Linked DNA regions of Homo sapiens. The protein of the gene in region 3 purifies or fractionates together with the protein of the main gene of each other region. This does not show direct contact. Each region holds a gene or a part of one and is shown on either strand. Other genes may lie near its edges.

Region 1 (2,993 bases), on a different chromosome or scaffold from region 3:
AGCCTGGGTGAAAGAGTGAGACCCTATCTCAGAGAAAAACCAAAAAATAAAAAATAATAATCACCACTATCACTGATTTTAGTGATTTTAGTGATTTTAGATTTAGATTTTAAATTTTAGAGATTTCAGTGACAGATAATTAGAATCAACTCAAAACTGTATTAACTATTTTCTATTCTTCAATTTTGATTACACTGTGTCAAGCATTGCATACATTTCTAAATATTGGGGGTTGGGAAAACTTTTCCATGGAAGTAAGTTTGTTTTCTAGATTTTTTTAGGTTAAAAGTCATATGGAATAAATTAAATCTGAGGCTGATCCATTTATCCATTTACTAGGACATGTAAAAGTATTAATAGATAAGCATGTAATCTATCATTCATATTGACATAATGTATAACATAAATACTGAGCATAAGATAAAAGGTTATCTTAGAATTCCATGCACATGTATTTGTGTCATTTAGTATTAGCATACTGGAATATTGTTGGAACAAGCTCCACTGTTGCTTTTGAATGTAAGGTCAAGCCCATTGTCTTAGAAAGCAGAACACAAAATATATTAACTGTGGAACTGCAGTTGGTAAGAATTCACTAGCATCAGAGTAACTGAGGATAAACACAAGCATACGCATAGAACACCGTTTTTTAAAAATGTATTTTGAATAGTTCCTCCTTCATAGACTTATTCTTACTGATTAGCTGTATCTCATAATTTTAAAAAATAGCAAATGTGTTTTATTTATTTAGTATGCACTTGTAAAGCTGTACTAGTCTTACAAGTTTTTTTCTTATGAGTTCAAGTAATTCTTGTACATGCATTAAATGAAAGCATGATCTTACAAAGAGATTTGTGTCACTGAATTTTTACTCAACCATGGATTTTTAAAAAATGTTTGATTGTTATTAAGGTAATAACTTCAATTCTCTATTTTTCTATACGCTTTTTGTCACGTCTTAATGGATGTTAAAGAGAAAAAAATTAGAAATTAAGTGTTTTAAAATAAATGATAAAGATGGCTGCTTATTTCTATTGTGGAAACACAACTTTGGATAAGTACTTAAATATATAACCCACTAAAGATAAGCACAGTTGGTTGAGAGTATGGATGGAAGAGGTCAAAACACACACCTGGATAGTTTGGCTCTGGTAGACTTTAATCACGTGAAAACTGAAACTGTAAATTCCTTTTCTTGGTGCTACAAAGACAGACTCCAATGTGAAAAAATTACCCACATTCACCAGGATCTACAAATAAAAATAATAAATAACAATAAGTTATTATATTTTCTTCTGTAACTAAAATGAATTTTCTTCCTCTCACTCTCTTCCTCTCCTCTTCCTTCTTTCCCTCCTTCCTTCATTCCTTCCTTCCTCTTTCTTTCTTTTCTTTTTTCTTTTGTTCATTCATTCATTCTTGGCAACTAGCTTAAGAAATCATAGAAAATAAAACATCTAGTTCTGTATCTTTCCTCTTAACTGATTTGGAAAATTGACTGGAATACTGGAAGGTTCTTCTGTCTTTTAAATGATATAAGAATAAATAAAGTAACTGCTTTGTATTCATGTCTCAATTTCCAGCAAGGCCCAATGGCTCTGGAAACATCGAGCTAACATTTGAGAACTTATAAATATTAGCTTTACCTTGAGAGTTGGATAAAAGGCACCCGCTATGTGTTTACATTCCCACCTTCTACAAGCCTTTGCAATGTCCAGAGGTGACGTTTCCAAGCCAGCCAATCAGCATCTGTGAGCTCTCCGCAGCATCCCTGGACAAACCACAGAGGCATGGGTACCCCCTCCACCATGTGACATAATCCTTGACACTGAACAGTTGGTGCACAAAGTGATCTGAATGCCTGGCCCTTCTCTGAGCCACCACCACCCCTCTCCTAAGATCTGTTACCATTTTTTTTTTCATTCCTGTGCCAGCTAGGCCTTAATTATAATAATGTGGCAATGAGTCAGCCCTTGTGGGCTGCCAAAGAGGAGAGCATAGAGAAGGCTAAACTATGAAATAGGTGGCTTTCCCTGTTCCTCCCCGGGCTGTCCATTAACCTCCTATCAATCACCTGCTCTTTATTTGAAGTTCAAGGTTCAAAAGTGAAATTAGATACTGTTTCCCAAGAAAGCAACAATGCATTTTGTATTCCAAAATATTCAGCCTAGTTCTATTGGTTATAAAATTAACTCTAAATTTTAATAAGTGACCTCTTAAGCTAAATTTGCAATGTCACATGGGTAAGTCTCTTTCTATGAGAAAGAGGGATTGGGATGGAGGATGGATGTTAAAATAACCAGGGTTTGTTCCATTTCTTTCCAAGAAATACACCTGTAAGTGGCATTCAAAAATAATAAGAGGTCCCTAAAAAGATATACTTCTCATATATCAATGGCAATCTGCTACTATCTCTTTCGAACACTGCATTCTTGCCAATATTAACACACTTGCAAGCCTCTTGCATAATTCCCTAAAAATGTACTATTACCTCTGGGCAACATACCAGAATGTAGTGACAGTCAAGCAGATGTATCAGGCTCAACACCTAACTTAAAACACATGTACGTGTATAATTTCATTCTGAGATTTCGCCTTCTTCCAAGTAAGCATCAGATTTTTTTTGTAACCTGATGATAGATGGTCTTTCAACAAGTCACCAGCTGTGCAATAATCCCCAGCAGAGGCTTTACAAAGAAATTTTTCAAGCACAATTAAAATAATTTGAGGTGCTTAGTGGTGACTTCCTGATTCAGATACAAGTAGCATAATTCATTAGCAATAATGAAAATAGCTGATTAGTGTTGGCTACATATAAAACTGGATGTTGACTCTACACTGTAATTGGAGCATCCAGGTACATCGAGATTTATAACCAAATGTGTGTTCTTGTCTCTAAGATGCAAGGCTCACTGAAAAGAAGAACAAACCCTTTTCCTCTTCTAATTGATGGAAAGGTCATTGAAAGGAACACCCTGTATAGAGGATAGTGC
Region 2 (3,662 bases), on a different chromosome or scaffold from region 3:
TACACTTTTATTTATATATATAAACATATATGTAACTTTTTATTTGATACCTATACACAATTGAAATCTTTACTATCATCATGTGTAACTTTTATTTAGTTTTAAAAAATAATCACAATTTCCTATAGATTAATTCTAACACTCTATCACATATCAATACTGGACCAAAGAACTCTGGAATCATGGGAGAAGGCACATCTTTATGTTCATAATATGTAATGTTATTATTGGTTTTCAAGGTAACAAGCCAAATATGTGTCTAATGTTAGCGTAACAGACCTGAATAATGGTCTGCAGAAATTCATTTAATATAAAAAGCAGAAAATATCAGTTATAATAATTTTGAATTTTGGTGGAGCTTTTAATTAAGCCATAAATTTCTGATAAAGATAAATATATTCCAAATTTAGGAAAAAGCAAATGATACTTGCTTACTTGTTGTTCTCATGCTAGAATATTTCTCATACTTGCGAGTTACAATTTGACACTCTTGATGAACAATCCACAGATGAGAAAAGTGCAAAGGCTCCATTGCCCTGTAAGGTTAGATGTTGTGGCAGGTTTTAAACTATTGACTCTCAGCTCTAAGTTCCCTTCTGTGGTTGCTTTTAGGATGCTGAGGTTTGGACTTTGCAAACCACATATCTGTTTTATTTGTGGTTTCCTGTTAGGCTTTGCCAATGGAGGGAGATGGCAAGACTTGGCAGGGAGAGGGAATTGCTCCCATTGTTGGTTTCCTGTTTTGTTTCTTCCTCCTCCAGGAATTTATCCTAATGGCATGTCTTCATTCTGGCTATATCAATTTATTCCCACAGCAGCAGGTGCTGCCTCTTTGTAGTATTTCCAACATTTGCAGTATATCCAACATTTGATCTCATCAAGCCCTCCTCAGAGACACCAGCACTAGCACCAGAGAGATTTGAGGTTCATCACCACAAAGCTTCTCCTCCAAGCTTTTAAGTCTTAATGATCTTCCTTTCGTTCCCTCAGCCCTGTAAGTTGTAGGGGTGGTAGCTACTTCCTAACATTGCTGTTTCTGTGATACCACAGCAATATCTTAGCCTTTGCATAAACTTGGTTAATAACTCTATATCCAGTTAGCATTCTTTCTAAAATTTCTTTCTTAAAATAACTGATATTTTGTCAGTCTCCCGACTGGACTATGTTTGAATCCTTCTGTATCTAAAAGTGCAGAAATTAAGTTGTTTTGATTTTATAATTTACTAGAGTTAACCACCAGAGGTCTTATGGCTCCCTATACTGCAGGGAGTTAACCAGTCTTAAATATAATTCAGCAAACTTATTTTTAGATGTCATTCGTCTGTTTACTATGCAAGTTCCTCAAATGCTCTTAAAACTAGCTCTAGTATTTTCTTGCTGGTATTTTTATTAATGTGATTAATACAACGTTGACACAAATTCCCTCTCTATTCTTATGAGAATTATGTTTTTAACACCTCTCTGCTTATTAAGGGGAAAGTCACCTCCTCACAGTTTTTAAGTCTTAGATTAAAGCAATGTTTTCTATGCGCAAATGCAACTCATTAGTAGGTTATGAAATCAATTTTGTGAATCCAAATAAGCATTTAAAAAATTAAATTAGCTAGAATAGAAAGTATCAGAGTATAAAGATAAGTTGTTCATAAGAGTTTTGTTTTAAATTTATGTATGTGCATATCAATGTGTGTACTGGGACACATTTTGAAGTTTGAAAATTGGGAATCATGGTAGACCATGTTTTTGAAAAAATACTTGATCAAAGCACATATTCAGATTACAATTTATTTTACAGTGACTGGCAATAGCCTAGATAAATTCCCATTCTGTTTTTACTATTCACTTCTATTAACTTGTATAATTCACTGTTTTTCACAATGAGTTGGAAAATTAAATCAATATGTAATGCTTTGTTTCTGATTTGTTGTTGTTTTACCTCTAAAGGAAGGTAAAAACTATTTTCAGGAAGTCTTTTACAAAATAGTAACAAGAGTATTTCTCATCAAACAAGCTATTGATAAAATCTTGAATATGCCATTCTATTCTGTAAAAAGGAGAATTGCAAAAAATACATACTAGGTCAGAGTTGTGATTGATAGTGATATTTTAAAAATTGGACCTTAATTTCTGTGCTGACAGAGAGAGCTAGGAACAGACTGTAAAGTGACATGGCCGAATTACTAGATACTAAATAAAAGTTAGCTCTAATCTCCCTCACCCCAAGTCTATTGTTTTGTTTTGTTTTTATTATATCTTATTCAATGAGACCTCTTTCAATCAGTACAGGTTCAGACGTAAAATGTTTGCCAGCGGGACCTATTTTAGGAAACCTCATAGGATTTTTCAGGGTGTCAGATTCCTGGAGATATGTGGGATTGGTGCCATGGGTCACTTATACTCCAAGAAAGCATCGAAATGTAAGAAGACACTTTGTGCTGACATTTCAGTGGGAAGAATGCTTTCAAAAGGGATTTCCTAAGAGTAATACAGCCCATTCGTACTCTCTTGTTAACTGGTGAAGTAACATAATTTGAAAATCACATAAAAATTCAGCAAATTATTTCCAAATGGAAACAACATTCACTGATTATAGAACATTTATTCTACACTTTAACTTAAATACATGACTAATTTTCTACAAATTAGCCAAATTACTAAAAGACATCAACATGAACATTAAACATGGGTTGTGGTTTTGTTCACCGTCTTGTAGCTCTGTCAATGGTCTTCACAAAGAAGAGATACTTGAATTCACAAACATGTATAGAACAGTGAATGTGAGATGAAATCAGGGCCTTAGGGATCTTTTTGCACAACCAGGTGAATCTACAGATGAAAATAAGTAGCTCATAAGTGAACATTGTTGAATTTGCAATGTTTACTTAAAGCCTTTTAATTTAAACTATAGTGGGAGATAACAATTTCATAGCTAAGAAATCATGGTATTTGTCTTTGAATTAAGTTGACTTAAAAGTCAAGGGACCTGCATTAACTGCAAAGCTTTACGTTTACATATTACACCATTTCTGAACTGAGAAAATTTGTTTTGCTATTACAATTGCAGTTTATTTTTTTACAGCACTTAAAAGAGGGCTCATGTCATTTTCTCTATTGTAATTGAGGCAGGCTTAAAACCTCTTGGAGAGTAAAAACCATTGTAAAGTTCCCTCCTGCACAGCAGACCAATAGCAAGAATTCAAAAGCCAAGTGCATTGGCAAGCTTTGAAAGAGTATCTGAAATATTTGCTCTTTTACTCTTCAAGTGTATTCTATAGGGCACTATGTAATCAACTGAATTCGTGGTTTCTGAGGAGCTCAGAGGCTGAGGTCTTGTACTTTACAGTAATAGTGTACAGTACATTAACCACCTGGGTCCCTGTGTGTGTCATTGTTTCCTTTCCAGTAGTCAAAACAAAGTATTCTTAAGTTTTGCTTAATTCAGATTTGGTATTTTTGTAAATGTGTTCTCAGAGCCTCTCCAAATGGTTCTGTGTTCCATCAGCTCTCTGATGAGCTCCACTCTATAGCACAGCAGAACAACACTATTTAAAGATGTCCTCGTTAGAACACTTGACTGCTCATTGACTGCATTGGAAGCTGCACTTTATTTACAGATAATGGATGTGGAGCACAGAATTTAAAAATCACATAGAGAAATATATTCT
Region 3 (2,686 bases):
AGAGAGTCACAGAGCCCGTGCGTGGGGTGCCCAGGGCATCTGAGCCGCTGCCCGCTTAAAGCGCAGTGCTCGGCCGGCTGGCGGGCGGGCCCAGCCCGCTCTAGTCTCCGCCAAAGCCAATTGGAACCGATTTGGGTGTGTGAGGCTGTTGTTTCTCTCTCTGTGCCGGCCGCCTGCGCCCTGGCCCTCGCTGACGCCCTCTCTTTTCTCTTCTCTCTCTTGTTCTAGGAGGAGAGTTAATATTGCCCATTATCACGGAGGACTCCTTAGACCCCCCTCCCGTGGCCACCCGATCCCCCTTCGTGCCCCCGCCCCCTACCTTCTACCCCTTCCTCACGGGAGTGGGCGCCACCCAAGACACGCTGCCCCCGCCCGCCGCGCGCCGCCCGCCCTCTGGGGGCCCGTGCCAGGCCGAGCGGGACGACAGCGACTGCGAGGAGCCCATCGAGGCCTCGGGCTTCGCCTCCGGGGAGGTCTTTGACTCCAGCCTCCCCCCCACGGACGACGAGGACTTTTACACCACCTTTCCCCTGGTCACGGACCGCACCACCCTCCTGTCACCCCGCAAACCCGCTCCCCGGCCCAACCTCAGGACAGATGGGGCCACGGGCGCCCCTGGGGTGCTGTTTGCCCCCTCCGCCCCGGCCCCCAACCTGCCGGCGGGCAAAATGAACCACCGAGACCCGCTTCAGCCCTTGCTGGAGAACCCGCCCTTGGGGCCCGGGGCCCCCACGTCCTTTGAGCCGCGGAGGCCCCCTCCCCTGCGCCCCGGCGTGACCTCAGCCCCCGGCTTCCCCCATCTGCCCACAGCCAACCCCACAGGGCCTGGGGAGCGGGGCCCGCCGGGCGCAGTGGAGGTGATCCGGGAGTCCAGCAGCACCACGGGCATGGTGGTGGGCATTGTGGCGGCGGCGGCGCTCTGCATCCTCATCCTCCTCTACGCCATGTATAAGTACCGCAATCGTGATGAGGGCTCCTACCAGGTGGACCAGAGCCGAAACTACATCAGTAACTCGGCCCAGAGCAATGGGGCGGTGGTGAAAGAGAAGGCCCCGGCTGCCCCCAAGACGCCCAGCAAGGCCAAGAAGAACAAAGACAAGGAGTATTATGTCTGAGCCCCCGGCACTGCGCCCCACTGCCAGCTGCCCCTCCTGGGAGGGCCCGGGAGGAGGGTGCCACCCTCTCCCTGCCAGGGGCCTGGGGACCCTCTCCCTGGCTGCCTCAGGCTTCTCTTACGAAGAGGAAACGCAAAAAAAGAAAAGGAAAAACCCCGTGCTCGCCCCCTTCCTCCTGCCGTCCACTGCGCGGCCTCGTCAGTCCCGGGGCTGACTGTCCCTCTCAGCTCTGCGCCTGCCAGGCAGGGCACGTGCTCACAGCCCTGGGTTGATTTATTTTTTTAAGGGGGTAGTTTTATTTTGGTGGGGTTGGGTGGGAAGGAAGGCTGGGGGTTTTGTAAAGTGTCCACTGCTCGTCCTGTTAATTTTCCTCAATTTTTCTTCTTCTTCCTTCTGTCCCTCCTGCCTTCCTTCTCTTCCCAAGCCCTCCAATCCCCATCCCAGGCTTGCTGTGTCTCACTGTCCCCACCCTCCTTCCCTACTTCTTTTTTTGTGTGTCTGGTTTCTCCCTTCCTTTCCTCCCTTTGGGTTTCCAGAGTCGGTGGGAGAAGGGCGGGAGGGTGGGCCCGAGTGGCCCAGTGGGTGGGTGGGGTGGGGTGGGGCAAGTGCCCCAACTCCCCTCACCAGGAGAGGCACCTGCTTGGTGCCGCCCAGGGAAGGGGCTCAGGCCTGACGGAAGGCCTGTTCTGTGTGTGCCGCCGGGCGACGTGCATTGATGGGGAAGCTGCTGGAGGAGCAGGGGTGGGGGGTGGGAGGGAGGGGAAAGGCAAATGCAGATATATATTACAGACAAATACTCTAGATTCCACGAGCAGCAGCCTGTGGCACCCGCTGGGCGCGGGCAGCAGGGAAGAGGGAGCAAGGCATTGTCCACAGACTGCTGGGGTCACTTCTTTGCCCACGGGCTCCCTGCTCCCCCAGTTTTTTTTCTCTCTTTGTTAACAAATGTGTCTGAGTCTTGGAAAACACCCCAACCCCGGAAATGTGTGGGAAAAAGAAAACAAAAACTTTCCAAATTCCAACGGTCCTGTGCAGTTTTTTTGGGGGTGGGTGCTGTTAGATCCTGGCTTTTGGCTGGGGTCTGGGCCCACATGGGGGCCCACAAGAGCTGGTAAGTTGCTCCCGAACTTTTGGGTTGAGTGTGGCTTTGGGTTCCTGGGATAACTTGTCTTTGTCTCACAGTGTCCTGTATCCCTGCTGGGCTGAGGAACGGGCGGGAAACATGGCTGGTCTCTGGCCGGTTCACAGACCTTAGCTTCTCAGAAAGGCAGACAGATCCCTGGAGACCTTGTGTTGCCCCCTGATGGCTACTGGATCCACACCTCGGGGCATGTGTGCCCGGGCACAGACCTGGGTGCGGGACAGATGCTGCCTCATCCTTCAGCAGCCCTTGGAGGGAGGAGGTCATTCCTGGGCTTGGAGACCTTCAGTGGCTGCTCCCAGGTCTCGAGGTGAATGAGTGACTGAGTCCCAGTGGTCTCCTGCTCTGCCTGACTCTAGAGTCTGTGCTCCTTCCCCTTCCTCTCTAGGGATTTGGACCCTGGTACCCTACCTTCCCCCAAGTCCACTCT

The links.
Region 1: the proteins of NRXN2 (region 3) and CBLN4 purify together in Homo sapiens (co-immunoprecipitation; one large-scale study listed by IntAct). This does not show direct contact.
Region 2: the proteins of NRXN2 (region 3) and LRRTM4 purify together in Homo sapiens (co-immunoprecipitation; one large-scale study listed by IntAct). This does not show direct contact.

Annotation. Positions count from the first base shown.
Region 1 is NC_000020.11:55,999,598-56,002,590, forward strand, and holds part of CBLN4 (cerebellin-4 precursor), read right to left. Parts: intron 1,251-2,993; coding exon 1,134-1,250; intron 1-1,133. UniProt on the Homo sapiens protein: Acts as a synaptic organizer in specific subsets of neurons in the brain. Essential for the formation and maintenance of inhibitory GABAergic synapses.
Region 2 is NC_000002.12:76,749,377-76,753,038, forward strand, and holds part of LRRTM4 (leucine-rich repeat transmembrane neuronal protein 4 isoform a precursor), read right to left. Parts: intron 1-3,662. UniProt on the Homo sapiens protein: May play a role in the development and maintenance of the vertebrate nervous system. Exhibits strong synaptogenic activity, restricted to excitatory presynaptic differentiation.
Region 3 is NC_000011.10:64,605,625-64,608,310, reverse strand, and holds the end of NRXN2 (neurexin-2-beta isoform alpha-1 precursor), read left to right. Parts: intron 1-228; coding exon 229-1,115; 3' UTR 1,116-2,137; downstream 2,138-2,686. UniProt on the Homo sapiens protein: Neuronal cell surface protein that may be involved in cell recognition and cell adhesion.